Homo sapiens: one gene and its partners. The protein of the gene in region 2 interacts with the protein of the main gene of each other region in a pairwise test. Each region holds a gene or a part of one and is shown on either strand. Other genes may lie near its edges.

What was found.
Region 1: the proteins of EMP1 (region 2) and LRRC3B interact in binary tests that used the Homo sapiens proteins (3 or more experiments, as listed by UniProt).
Region 3: the proteins of EMP1 (region 2) and STOM interact in binary tests that used the Homo sapiens proteins (3 or more experiments, as listed by UniProt).
Region 4: the proteins of EMP1 (region 2) and SPACA1 interact in binary tests that used the Homo sapiens proteins (3 or more experiments, as listed by UniProt).

What each region holds. Positions count from the first base shown.
Region 1 is NC_000003.12:26,621,364-26,625,571, reverse strand, and holds the start of LRRC3B (leucine-rich repeat-containing protein 3B precursor), read right to left. Parts: upstream 2,801-4,208; 5' UTR 2,335-2,800; intron 1,974-2,334; exon of another isoform or gene 1,520-1,973; intron 1,492-1,519; exon of another isoform or gene 1,214-1,491; intron 927-1,213; exon of another isoform or gene 61-926; intron 1-60.
Region 2 is NC_000012.12:13,206,726-13,210,225, reverse strand, and holds part of EMP1 (epithelial membrane protein 1), read right to left. Parts: intron 1-3,500.
Region 3 is NC_000009.12:121,363,751-121,367,250, forward strand, and holds part of STOM (stomatin), read right to left. Parts: intron 2,496-3,500; exon of another isoform or gene 2,366-2,495; intron 1-2,365. UniProt on the Homo sapiens protein: Regulates ion channel activity and transmembrane ion transport. Regulates ASIC2 and ASIC3 channel activity.
Region 4 is NC_000006.12:88,061,341-88,064,840, reverse strand, and holds part of SPACA1 (sperm acrosome membrane-associated protein 1 precursor), read right to left. Parts: intron 762-3,500; coding exon of another isoform or gene 743-761; coding exon 622-742; intron 1-621. UniProt on the Homo sapiens protein: Plays a role in acrosome formation and establishment of normal sperm morphology during spermatogenesis. Important for male fertility.

The DNA.
Region 1 (4,208 bases), on a different chromosome or scaffold from region 2:
AGCCTTGGGGGGGTCAGAGCTAAATCTCGTGGAGTGCGAGTTTCAAGTCTAGGATCCTACCTCAGGTATCCAGGTACTTCTGAAGAAGCCCGGCTCTCTCACCAGGCCTGGTCTGTGAGGGTGTGGCCTTTGTGCTCAGGAGCTGCACCAGGAGCCTGCGCACAGGGAATCCCCGTTCTGCTCCTTGGGGCTCTGGAGTTTGCCACCGCTAGGCAGGGAGCTAGCTGCTCCAGGGGTGCCCCAGAATGGGAGGGACTGACCTCGGGATTTCTCCCGGGAGCCCTGGCGAGTCGACGTTTCCTCCGATGTGGCCAAGGCGAGGGACCCAGAAAAAGGAACTGCTCTGAATTTTGCTTTTTCCCAACTGGTACAAGGCAGCAGGAGTCCTCTGTAGGGCACCCGCGGAGAAAGTAAGAAAAGCCTGCACGTGGAAGGTCTGAACAGGGAGGACCTAAAGGTTGTACAGGGTTCCAAACCCACCCAACCTCCAAATGTTTCCCTATAGGGCTACTAGGAACCAGGGATCCACTCTCAGCCAAAGGCACCTCTGGGAGAGGAGCATGCACCTCCTCAGGGAGAGAAGGGTTAAGTGAGGTGCTTACTGGCCTTGGCAGTCACTGTGCCCCCACCAGGAAATAGGGGGCTTGATGGATAAAAGGGAGGGGAGGCTGCCTCTTCGAAACAGCCGACTAAGCCCCCTCCCGCAAACGGTCTTGCACTCCAGATTGCTGGGGTGCAAAGGAGAAAAGAGCCTCCCCCTCCTGCATTCGCCAGAGCATCTGGAGCCACAAGAAGAATCTACCTGGGAGCTGCAAGGTGGGCAGATCCACCTCTGTCTGGGCTCCCAGGTCTAAGAGCTGGGTCTCCCCTCACCCGAGGCCCACACCTCCTAGCTCTGCGTTTCCCTGCACGCCCTCCAGCTCTGCGCTCCCCAGCCTCCCGGGCGCAGCACAGGGCTCCCCCCACTCCCTCGCTCCGCCCAGGTGCGATTTGTGGAGGGGCGGGGGAAAGTGGCTCCCACCGCAGCCTCCGCTCCTGCGCTCTCCTCCAACCACTTTGGACCCCTGTTTACTCGCCGCGCGCTGGGGACTCCCCTCTACCCCGCACACACGTCTCCCCCTGGGAGGCAGGAGTCCCCTTCCTACACTGCGGCTGTGGAAACATCCTTGACTCCTGAGTGCCTGGCAGGGAAGGTGGGCGTGGGTCTACCGACCTGGCTGCAGAGGTGAAGGAGCGTAGAAGCAAGCGGGTGCCAGAGAAGAGAGCAGACTATGGTCCTCTTAGAGCTTGGAGAAGCATCCCTAGTCCACGATCTGACCATTCAGTCACCACCCAAGATGCCAACGCATTCAGATTCTCGCGGGGAGGTTTGTTTGCTTCTGGGGAGGAAGATCGCCCCATCCCAGGCACTCAGCAGCCTGCCTTCCCAAGTACCCAAGGGCCCGGCATTCCGGGGCTCCATTCCTTGTCTCCACGCGCCCCCAGGTACCCAGCCCCTCCCCCATCTGTATTTACATACCCAGGCCAGCGCCCTCCGGACTCAAATCCCTTTTCCTCTTCGTCAGATGGCCTCTCAGGGCTGGCCGCTCGCCCACATTAGCAGTACCTTTTCATTTCCCTCAACCGTGGGCAGATCTACCCGACCCTCAGCTTCCTCCTCCACCGCACGAGCAGCCTTTCCCTCCCTGAGCCACTTACTTCACCCACCCATATCTGCACTTGCAGTTCCCACGGCGCACAGCCGCAAGCCACTCCAAAGGTTTCATTGCCGAGTTGGGGGTGGCGTGTGCAAGGATGGACTGACTCCCATCGCGCTGGACGAAGCTTCAGGGGTGGCCGCAGCCATCCTCCATGTCCCACCTCTCTTATTTCACCTTCTCTGTCCCTACCCAGCTCCTAGAGGCAGGACGAGCACTGCTGGGTCCCAAACCCTCGCCTCAGGAGCCAGAGCTGCGGGGAGTGAAAAGTCGACTGGCAAGAACACACAGAGAGAAATGGGCAGATGCATATGGCAAGAGGGGCTGGGGGAAGGGCAAGAACTAAACCTGCAAGTTGCACAGCACGGGGTGAGCACCGCGCAGGGAAGGGGTCACAAAAGTTTGCAGACTATTGTATAGCAGCCGGCTGAACAGGAGCGAAGAGGGTCGACTCTCTCTCTCCAGGAGGAGGTCTCTCCCAGGGTCTGCGCAAAAGGGATCAGGGAGGCTTAGACAGGCACGGCTTAGAACTGGTGTAATAGTTCTCCTCTACTTGTTCCTTGGAGGGACGGCCTAGGTACCCGGGCAGAGGGATGATCCCGCGCTCTGCGAAAAGCAACAGGCGGCTGCACCTTACCTTGCGCCAGTCCCGGGCCGGGGTGGCTGCTCCATCCTCGTGGCTCAGGGAGGAGGCGTTGGGTGCGTATGCTTAGGGGTGTGCCCGCTGCCAGGGCTGCAGCGGCCGCCACCTCCAACCAGCTGCAAGCCGAGCTGCCCACCTGGGACCGGGCCGGCCCGGCGGGCTTGGCTCCCGGCGAAGGCGGCGGCGTTGGTGCGCGGCGGCTGGGGCGCGGGACGCAGGCAGTGCGTGGCGCGGCTGGCGTCTTCGGGCGCCGCCACCGAGCGAGGGTGCGGCCCCGGGCGGCCGTGCGGGGCACGACTTGGCTCGCGTTGCTGCGGCGGCCGCTGCAGACCCTGCTCCAGGCGCCGTAGCCTTGCAGGAAGAGCAGACAAAGACAGGAGAGAGGCAAAGCGCCGCTTGCCCAGAGATGCAGTCGGCTCAGTCAATAGAGGGAAATCGCCTCCAAACCCAGGCTGGGAATGAGGGAGGAGGGGCGAGGCGGCTGGGGACTAGAAAAAGCAGCAGGGAATTAACGTGACAGTCAGAGCCCAGCCAGTGCCTCGCCGGCGCTGCTCTCTCGCCTCGCGGTTGCGGGGTCCGGAATGGAGAGAGGAGGCGGGGGCTGAGCGTTGGCTGCCGGAGACCAGCTGAGGTAGGAGTATTAACTCCCTCTGCTGCTCTCGCCTGCCTTCCTCGCACCCCCTTACACAGCTCTACTTGCAGCAGGCTATGGCCCCATTCTTTCTCCTATTTTTCTAACTACTGAGATCAGAGCTGAATTAAGCTGGTGAAAGGAGCAAAACGTGCAAGGGATTGATTGCCCTCCTTGGGGGAAAAGCGGAGGCTTAAAATCAATTCGACAAATGAGTGTTTACTGGGTGCTGAGTACTGTGCTCCGCTATTGTGAGGGAGGGTTATGAATAAGGTACCCCCCTCCCGCCCCAGGGTCCGTTGTCTGATCTCAGAATCAGTTTCCCCTGCAGTTCTGGAAGCCCAAAGTTTCGGGGTTGAGTTGTGGTCCCTGATCCCGATCCTCAACCAATCTAGCTTTCTAAATCAGAAGAAGGTGGAATTCAATTTTCCTTTCTCCTTCCTGGGATGACTTTAACCTGCAGCCGAAATGGAGTCTATAGGCCCCTTAAAAAAGCGCGCGCACGCCAGTGTGTGTGTGTGCGAGCGCGCTCGCGTGCGCGCGTGTGTTTTAAGAGTAAGTCAAATTAATGGTTTTAGTGATGTTCTTATTTCATGATTTTAATTATTTACCATATCTGCAGTAGACACCAGTTTGGGGCAGAGGAACCCGCCTCTCCAGACTCTACAAATACCACCTTTTTTTCTAAAGCTTTTTTCCGCTACCCCAGTCCTCTGACTCGAGGCAGAAATCTTTCCCCTCTCTTTGCCCTCTCAGAATTTTATTTGCCAATCACTTGCGGAACTTATATATTTATAGATTTATCTCTTCACTCACATATGAGTATTCCCTGTGCTTTTTGTTTGTTTGTTCTCACTGCAACATCCAGCAGTGTTTTGTATCTAATGGGTACTCAAGGAAAGCTTATCCAGTTGAAGGTCATTTTCTCCTTCTGTATGAGCTAAATCTCAGTGTCTCTAGAATTAAAGAGACTCCAGGGATGGAACTTTTGATTTAGGGTGTGGTGGAGGGAACCACACATACAGTTAGACTCACAGCCCCTTTACTGGAAAGGTAATAAAGTATTTAATTCATTTTGGTCTCTAGACAATCAACCTTCTCCCACTGACCACCCACCTCTGTTTCCTGAATTCCCAAAAGCAAAAGAAAACCAAACTGCTAAGCAACTGCCTAGAGCAAGACATGTATGTTCAGCTGCCAACACCTAGAGCAAACCCATTCCAAGTGGAGAATGACC
Region 2 (3,500 bases):
CCTAATTTAATTGATGCTTTGAATGTGCTTGAGGCACTTTCATGCCACATCAGGTATTTATTAGAGAGCACTGATACTATAATTCCAACACTTCACATGCCTTTTATCTCCTCTCACTGTCTTTATCAGGCAACCAAAAATCTAGAGTGATCTAATATACATCAGGGTGCCTTGCTCTCTGCAAGCAAGGAATGAGAGGCAGACAATGGCTTCCACCATTCTCCCTGACCGTCTCCAACAGCCCCTTCCCAATCTGGCCACTTCCTTCCAACCCAGGCTGTTTTTTAGGAATGTGTCCAACTTAACTGTGAATGCAAAAATTATGACGTTTATCCTGCCTCTTCAGGGGAGAGGTTGGAGCTTTCATGTCTGCTATTAGTAATCCCCCCACACATTCAAATTCATTTTTGCTTTTCTCAGGTTCTAGCACACCTCCCCAATTTTCTGCTTGACTTAAATGCACAGTAAAAAGAGATTTTTGAATCAGACAGAGGATGAATTAGAATCATATCCAGTTATTTGACCGCTCATCTGTTTCCTCATTTAGAAAGTGGAAGTCGCAATGTCAATTGCAAAGGGAAATGTGAGGATGAATTCAGATTGTTTATGTAAAACACCTAGTGTCTGACACATGGCAGCTACTAATAATGGGGTTGCTTTAGCTGCGGTTATTATTATTACTATTATTCATAAGTGAAGCCGGGTAGCTGTTGCCAACCCAACCCAGTTACTCAATCGCTAGGCTGCCCCATGTTAAGTGCAAGTAATAAGATATCTGCTGTCTAGTTCACGAGGCAGGGTGTATACAATCCTTTCGGTCCTCTTAGAAATTGTCATTTGTCTAACCCTTGCCCCTTAAGGGGGGAGACCTCTAAGAGCACACCCTCAGGAAAGACCAGGAGAAAGTTCACTTTCTCAGCCCAACTTCCTCATACCTCCCAAGATTCACACCTCACCAGATCCTGATCTCCTTGCCCCCTATGGGGAAAGGAACAGGCTGATTGCAGGGAATTACAAATATTACATAACGAATACTTATGTTTAATCCTCCTCGGGCTCTTCAAATGACTTTCTTGTTCCTGTTGCTTCTAATTTACAAACATCCTCTTCTTAAAAGGGGGAAGGGCTGGAGGGGCCAATGACAGAATATAATCCACCAAGTGAGGCCACTTAAATGAGTCACAGAAAACATTCCCTCCCTGATAGGCTGTTGGGAATTCAGCAGCATTTTGTCTCCTTGGGTTGCTCTGTAACCCCTAAAGTCAAGTCTGATTTCCTCTGCCCAGCTCACACTCTCTGTCTCAATGACCCCTCCCACGGCACCTCTACCTGGGCCCATGCATCACAGCCCTGGTGGTGTGTGCGAGTGCCTGGCCCCTGGATCCACCTGACCATATGCCCTGCCCATTGCAGGCTGGAAGAATGGATGTGAGAATCAAGCAAAAGAGCGACTCTCTTTCATCTTAGATTTTTGTGATGGTGCCCTCCCTGTCTTTTCACCACGGAAAGAAGCAAAATGTCTTGAGTTAGCAAGCGGTCTTGTGCAAAACACACAGTTCTCTCTGTTTTTAGCTGCTGTATCCAGCCAGAAGGAGGGGCTGTTTAGCTTAAGCTACAACTTCTCCATCTTTTCACTGGCCCATTATTTGTCAGGTTTTACTAATATCATTCACTGTCAGTTTAGAGGGGCTTCCATTATTTTCAATGGCCTTCCCCCCAACACAGGTGAAAACAGAATGAGTTATCTTCTTGAGTTTCTGGGCTGAATCATCCCTAGTTACCCAGTCTTTACACTGTGCTAGATACCTCCTGCCCCCAGGGAAACCCTCAGTCTGGGAGGAGGCGATCACTGAGGTCTTTATGAAAAAGCCATTAGTGGTAACTAATGGGTAAATGTCTGGGCATTTATCAAATAGCAGAGTATAATAAACAGAAGAACCCCTGCTCCTGAAACTTCCACCCACCCATTACTTGCAAGGTAGCTTGTGGGGAGATTCATTCTCTGCCCCATTGTGAATCTTGCTTCATACAAAGGCACTGAAAAAAATACCATTTATGAGAATTTATACCATTGGAAGTATTGGTGGCTACTACTTATTTCTTAGCAGTGTGTTTCACTAAAACAATAGTAGACTTCTCCCTCAGCCCTCTCTAAAATGATATGGGTGGCACTCTCCAGTGGAAAGCATACCCCTAGTCCTAGTGAGGCAGCGCAAACCAAGATGCAGAGAATCACAGCATTGCAATTCTGAATACTTTGAAGCAAGACCCGCTTTTTGCAGAGCATTTGGTGCACTGAGCAGTTCCAAAGTTGTAGGGGAACGCTCATAACAGCGTTCATTTGTGGTGCTTAGACTCCCAGACCTAGGCCAGCAGAGCTTATCAATTCATTGCATTTTTAAAGAACAGGCCGTCCACTGACTTCTATGTGGATGCCAGGAACACATTTCTGTACCCACCACTGTGAGTGGAGGATGATCTCCTTCTTAAGCCTCATCTACCTAACATACATGGCACAGGGGCAGTTAGGGGCTGGGTGGGAAACTGAGGAAGGTATAGGACCCATGTATGTTGACTCTGGAGAGAAGTATTATTAAGAGAAATGGAGATCAGCACCTCGGAGCCACACACAGGTCTCTGATATCCCTTTTCTGTTCTTCTTTCTGCCCTAACGGACAGGCTTGCAGTTCCCTACCTCTGACCACCATCTTTTGTTTCTGATCACTGTTCCTCCTTTTCTTTCTGCATTGCCCAGACCACACTAGAGCAGAGGTGTCTTTGTGCTCCTAGCTCTAATGCAAACCTCACAAACACTGACCATTCAGTATTCAGATAAAGTTCTTAGCTAACAGAATAGCTAATATAGTCAGTAGAAATAACCCTGAGGGAGTTCGAGATCATCCTGGCTAACGTGGTGAAACCTAGTATCAATTAAAAATACAAGAAATTAGCCGGGCGTGGTGGTGCACACCTGTAGTCCCAGCTACTGGGGAGGCTGAGGCAGGAGAATCACTTGAACCAGGGAGGCGGAGGTTGCAAAAAGCCAAGATCGCTCCATTGCACTCCAGCCTGGGCAACAGAGCAAGACTCCGTCTCAAAATAAAATAAAATAGAACCCTGAGGATTAAAATTGCTCGTGACTATAGCTCTAAAGGACTAACTAATATGAGACATGAGGGAAGGGAAAGAGGGATAACCAAACCTCTCAAGTTATCTCCATCCATTTAAATCTTTATTGGCTTCTTGCCTCCCTCTTACACACCACACACACACACACACACACACACACACACACACAAATGAAAGAATCAAAGGAACACAGCCCTGAGACTGCCATGCATTGCCTTGTTGCCTTTGTTCAGGCAGCCTAACACTTTTAGGGTTCTCTGACCAGTGAGAAATTACTCAGGCCCCCATGGGAGCCTTTCCTTTTCTGGTGGGTAACTAAATCTGCAGAGACTTTGAGAAGAATTGACTTCTAAGGACCAGAAGGGAAGTTT
Region 3 (3,500 bases), on a different chromosome or scaffold from region 2:
TATGTCAGCCAACTATTTATTTGAGGAGGAAGACTTGCATAAATTAAATAATGCATTTGATCTTTCTTCCAGCTATTCAAATAAGGGTACATTTCCCAGCTTCTCAGTTTCTCCCTTTTGCTTATTTTGAAGCAAGGCCTTTATAAGGCCTGATAAACAAAAACTCCTGGTGAAAATAAGCAAAAGGGCAGGTAGAGTAAGTGAATATAAATTCCTCTTCAATTAATCAAATTTTTACTATAACTAAGTTTTTCAAATGACTGGAATTTTAGGAGAAAAAGACAAAGAAGGGAAGGACATAGCAGAAGCGAAGGAAAATAAGAGAAATAGAAGGAGTAAAAATGGGAGAAACAAAAATGAAGACAGAATCCTACAAAGAGAGATAGATTAAAAAAGCTAGAAGTGAGAAAGAGGCAGAGTTTACCACATGGTAGCGTCTCGATAAACGTATGTTAAAAAATGATAGTGTTTCATTAGAGATCAAAACTTGCAATTCATTTAAGGCAGAAGATTTCAAAGCAAACAAGCACACACACATTATAGCCTGCCTTTCAAATTAGTATTTTAATTAGGCACGGCTTAGTTGTTCGAATGCCCTTATCCTTAAATCTCTAGAGAAGAAATTATTCTTGGGGCTAGAGTAGCTACAGGCCAGATGGTATCAAGTTAAAAACCATGAGTGAAGACTGTAACTTTTCCTCCCTATTAAAATCCATCTATAGTTATAAATGCTAGACCAAAAGAACTGATACTGATGAAGCACTATGTGGTTTGAATTACAAAGCTTAAAATGTGTTTACTGTGAAATACTAAGGAAAACAAATGGACTAATACTTCTAAGAAAGATTTGCAATAACAGTTATTCTTTGCTTAGCTCAAAAAGAATAAGGAAAGTAAATAAGCATAAATGTCTTATTTCCTAAATATTTTAAGGATTTTCTGTAGTTTTCCTGCATTCAAATGTTTCAGGCCATACAAGAGGAAAAAAATAGGTGAGAGCAACAGCAATAATTTTAAATTTGGACCTCTCAGTCTAAAATAATGCTGCAATAGCCCTTTACCCTTTTAAAACAACATTTATCACACTTGTAATTATTCTATTCAGTTGTGTGTCTTCATGAGATTTTGGTTTTATGAAAACAGTATAGCATAATAGGTTCACAGATGGCTCTGCCACTTACTAGCTGTGTGATCTTGAGAAAGTACCTTATTATTCAACTGTGCCTCAGTCTACCCATTGAAACATAGGGCTAATAAGAGTACCTCCTCAGGTTAGTGTGATGAGTAAATAAGCTAATATGGAAGACACTTAGTGTATATAACAGGTACTCAAAAAACATTTGTTAAATAGTTGCTGGATGAGTTGAGTGTGTTGTTTTTTTGGGGAAAAGAAAAAAAAAAGACTGCCTCTCACATAAGACAAACTGAAACAGCAGACAGGATCCTGGGATACAGTACAGAACCATCTCCTGCCCAAGCAGTTGTCAACTGCTTTCCTCAAGTATTTTCTTTTTAAAAAAAAAATCAGACCTTTTCCAACCATGACGTTAGAGAATTCAGGAAAGCAGAAGAATGGGCTGAACATGGCCCATGTCTGGAAGCACCAAAACATTTATGTTCAGGAAAATTGGAGAGAAAAACAATTTCATAATGGGTATTAAGTTAATTAAATTTCATCTAGGCCTGAAATACATGAAAACAGAACAAAAACCCTCCCACTTTTTAGGTTTTTTTTTTTTTTCCCAGCTCTTTTACTTGGACATCTTAAAATTATTCACAATTAAGTTTTTCTCATATAAGTCTTTGGAGGGTAACATCGTTTTCATTTAAAAATGGGAAATGGAAGCAGAAGAAAACTAGATGATAAAGTTCTCAGTTCTTCACTGTGATTAACAGCTAAGCAGTGGCTAAAAGCTTGCATTTTTGGTGTTAGATTCCAAATCTACCACTAAATTTTCTTATCAGTAAAATGGGGAAAAGAACAGTATTTATTTCACTCAGTTGTTGTGGAGATAAAACGAGAAAATATGTAAAGGGCTTGACACTTAGGAAGTATTCAACAAGCAGTAGCCATTATTATTACCACAACTTTAAGATCACTATTGATAAGTTTAGAGGAAGAAACTTTTTATGAAGTGAATTACCTTTTGGGATCTGGGCACTATGGAGAAAATATCAACTAACAATCTGCTTGGGGACTCTATCTCTGGAGGAGAAACAGACTACACTTGGGGCAGTAAGTCAGAGTTCTAAATGTTCTTGGACCATCCTTCATACAAATCTCTTAAGTGATGGTAGGGTGATCTCAACCTAAATCTTTTAATTATAAATTCCACTCTCATTTCACTATATTCTACTACCTTACCATAGTGCTCACTTTAACTGGACCACAAGTTCAGTATAGTTTTCATTGTCTGAGACTTTAGGACTTTATTGGTTGTATCTTCAAGGATAATCTTCTGAAATGTGAGGCCAAATGCTTGGAGTTCAAGTTTCTTTAGTAGTCCCAGCAGACAGAGAAAGATTAAAAAAGAATGTAGCAACAAGTGTGTGTCAATAGAAAATTATTTTAATTGAAATGATCTATTTTAATTATCAACAAGTGTGTGTCAATAGAAAATTATCTATTGACACACACTTCCTTCTTTCTACTAACCATGACCTCTAAACTTCTCTTTCCATGCTTTAATAAATAAAAGGAGATTTCTTATTAAGGACAATATATTATCTTGGCAATTATAATCCTTTTATTGATAATATAAACCCAGACAAATAGTCTATCTGTAATAATATATAATAAACATAATGGCCATGCCCTAAAATCAACAGCTTAAGTTATAACAAACTTAATAAAATAAATGGTAAACAGAAAAACTGCTCCACCAACATAAGGCTAAGGCAAACACTTAACAATGTTATTTACTCCAGGGGGATTTTTATCTCCCTGCCTGCTTCCTTTTTCTTTGAACAAATGTTTTTGTATACCTACTATGTACTTGATACTGGGCTACTACAGTGAAGAAGGACACAATCTCTATTTTCAAAAGTGTGGTCTAAAGGCCAGGCTTGGTAGCTCATGCCTGTTGTCCCAGCACTCTGGGAGGGTAAAGTGGGATCGCTTGAGTCCAGGAGTTCGAGACCAGCCTGGGCAACATAGTGAGACCCTGAGTTAAAAAAAAAAAAAAAATTAGCTGGGTGTGGTGGTGCATACCTGTAGTCCCAGCTACTCGAGGGGCTGAGGTGGGAGGATCACTTGAGGCTACAGTGAGCTATGACTGCACCATTGCACTCCAGCCTGGGCAACAGAGCAAGACCCGGTCTCAAAAAGAAAAAGTGTAGTTTAATTATGGGAGGGGAGGGGACAGATGAGTCAAACTGATAAATATGTTATGTAATAAACATTATGATAGAGATATGCACAGGATACCAGGCAGACGCAGGGAAAGGGTATTCACTTTTTTTGTAGTTACAATAGTTTTCAGGAAATTGCTTTTCCATGC
Region 4 (3,500 bases), on a different chromosome or scaffold from region 2:
ACACACATATGACCTATATATGATATATGTATATTGTATATACATTATATGTACATAGAAGATATATGTATATTGTATATACAATATATGTACATATATATGTACATATATATAAAACATATATATTACCTCTTCTCTAAGAAGTGCCTTTGTATTCATTATTCATTTTTAGTTTGCGATGCATCAGCTACAAATCGATAGTATATGAGCCCTCAGACTTACCAGGGTGTACTACTCATGTAGGTATTATAAATATTGTCATACAAATGAATTAGTAGGTTACAATAACCAAGTTTTAGAGTTGAGAGAACCACAACTGGACAACACAAATATTCATTAAATAAAACTTTTTAAAGCAATTACCGTGTAAAATTGTAAAAGTTGCATTTAAAAGCTCTCTCATAGTTGGAGAAGCAAGTCATGAGATTGTTTTAAAAAGCATCTACATAAAGAGACGGGGCAGCCTGAACTAGGGCAGTCACAGGAGTAATGAAAGGCGATGGACAGTTTCAAGGCAACATGTAGGAGACATCACGGACAGGGCTTTGCAATTCACTGGATGAGGAGGGGGAAGAAGAGGATGTCAATCAAGGGTGATGATGCATTCCACTATTCACCTACCAATTTATGATTATGAAGATCAATAAGAAAATTATAAATACACAGATAATGACTCCTATGGTCAGCACAAAAATTAGGGCTGCATCAGTGGCTGGTAGGCTTGATCTTCTCATCTGCAATTCTAGAGAAAACACACAAACCTAAGGAGTATTACTACTGAGGAAAAGGAAATGAATATCTAACTTAAAAGTTTATATTTGAAAAACAACTCTAGAAACATAAAGAAATGCTTAGTGCAGAGAAAATTATTAATGATCTTGCTCTGCATGTTTGAAATGTCCTTTTCAAACATGAAAAAAGTTAAAAGAATTTGACAACGAACAGCCTGTATTACCACCATCTAAATACTACCATTAATATTTTAAAATTCATCTATCCATTCCTCTATCAATTCATTAATCCATCTTATTTTTATGCATTTCAATATAATTTGCAAATGTCAGTACACTTCCTCAAAAATTTTTCAGCAAGCATATCGTTAACTGGAGTTTAATATTAGTTTTTTCTTTGAAATAAAATTTTCACACAAAGAATTGCACAAAGATCTTAAATGTACATTTGCTTAGTTTTGACAAAGGCAAACTCATATATGTAACTAAATGTTAGTCAAGATATAGAATATTACTATACCCCAGAAAGTTCCCTTGAGCCTCTTCCTAATTAACTCCTTCCTCATCCTCCAGAGGCAACAAGCATCCTGATTTTCTTTTCCACCATAGATTAGCTCTGACTATTCTAGAACTACATATAAATTGAAACACACACTAGGTAATCTCTTGTGTAAAGATTTGTTTACTTAGAATAATGTTTTAGAAATTCACCCATACTGTTATATGCAACTATCATTTTTTTATTATTACTAGGTATACTCCACAATTTGTTTACTCATCCTCCTACTGATGGATATCTAGGCTGTTCCAGTTGTGAGATACTATAAATAAAGCTGCCATGAACATTCTTATACAAGTCATTTTGTGAATATATATCTTAATTTTTGGCTAAATGTCTAATAATAGAATTGCTGGGTCGTAGGGTAGACAGATGTGTGTTTAGCTGTCTAAGAAACCATGAGAACTTTCTCAAACTGATTGTACTGACTGTACAGGTTTTATAAATGTTTTCTACCAGATTTTGGCTTGCCTATTCATTATCCTAATGATTTTTGTTAATGAGCTGAAGTTTTTAATTTTGATGCAGTCTGATTTATTCAATGTTTCCTTTTATGGTGATTGTTTTCTGAATTATGTCTAAGAAACGTTTGCCTACTCCTGAATCATGCAAATAGTCTCCTATATTTCTTTCCTAAAACTTTATGGGTTTAGCTTTTACACTTAAGACTATGATACCTCTCTAATTTTTATATTTGCTGTAAGAAAGGAATTGAAGCTCATTGTTTTCTATACACATATCCACATACCCCGACCCCTCTCTCTTTAGGAAATGGGGTCTTGCTATATTGCCCAGGCTGGCCTTGAACTCCTGGGCTCAAGTGATCTTCCCACCTCAGCCTCCCTAGTAGCTAGTATTATAGGCACACACCACTGTACCCACCTCATGCACCACTCTTACCTCAAGCATTCTCTCCCATGTCTCTCTGCTCTTTCAGCAAATAAGGTTATCAAAGAGACAAAGCCAATCTACCGTATGTATTACAGTATTGCTACATTGTAAACTAGTAAAAAGCCAATTAACATAGAATATTACTTACTTTGTGAATTACATAGCTTTATTGTATCTCTTTTATGACCCCAAATTCTGGAATCATAAAAGATTCATGGAAGAAAGAACTACAGAGATCATCTGATCCAACTATTGCATTATACAGATAAGTAAACCAAGGCCCAGGGAGGTTTAATTTGTACAAGGTATATTTTGACTATTTAAATACTTTGATTTTGATAAGTACTACTCTGTCAGAACTAGTCTTCTATATGAGCAATCTCAACTGCTTATTTTTCTGGATTTGTTTCCCTATCTGTTAGACATCATGGAGTATAAGTTTCCATTTTGCCTAGTAATTCTAGAGCTATAAACTCAAGTTAGGGATCTCGCTAAATAGTTCCAAGTATGCTAGAGAAAATACATCTATATTTACGTTCCAACATTGTTGGATTTTTAAAAATCTTTTTATTTCAAAATAACTTTAGATTTACACAAGTGGTGGCATTTTGGAAACTTAAATAAAAAACACCTTTCAGAACTGACACCTGACAAGGAGAAATGCAAATTTCATTTATCCATTACTCTGCAATGTTAGCTGAGAGAGGGTGGAGAGTGAGGGGCATGAAGATTTTATTTATTACAACAGTAGTCTTGCAAGGGTCACCTAGACTATTTTTACAGGTAATGAAAAAAATAGGCTCAATTTCCTATTGAAGTATTTAATGAAAAATAGGCTAAATTTGATGCTCTCACCTTTTAGATAAACTAAGCTTATGTACTTATTAGTTTCCTAGGACCACCATAACAAAGTACCACAAACTGGGTGACGAAAACAACAGAAATGTATTGTCTCGCAGTTTTGGAGGCTAGAAGTCTGAAAACAATGTGTTGGCCGAGCCATGCTCTCACTGAAGGTTCTTGGGGAGGATCCTTCCTTGTCTCTTACAGCTTCTCAGCTTCTGGTAGGCTCAGAAATTCCTTGGATTCTGGTAGCATAACTCCAATTTTTGTCTCCATTTTCACATGGCTGTCTTCTCCCTATGTCTGTTTCTCTGTGTCTTCACCTGGCATTCCGCGCCCCACTTTCCATCTGTGTTTGTGTGTGTGTGTGTGTGTGTGTGTGTGCGCACAAGCATGCCCAAATATTCCTCTTCTTATGAGGGCACCAGTTATATTGGATTAAAGGCCCACTCTGCTCTAGTACAACCTCATCTTAA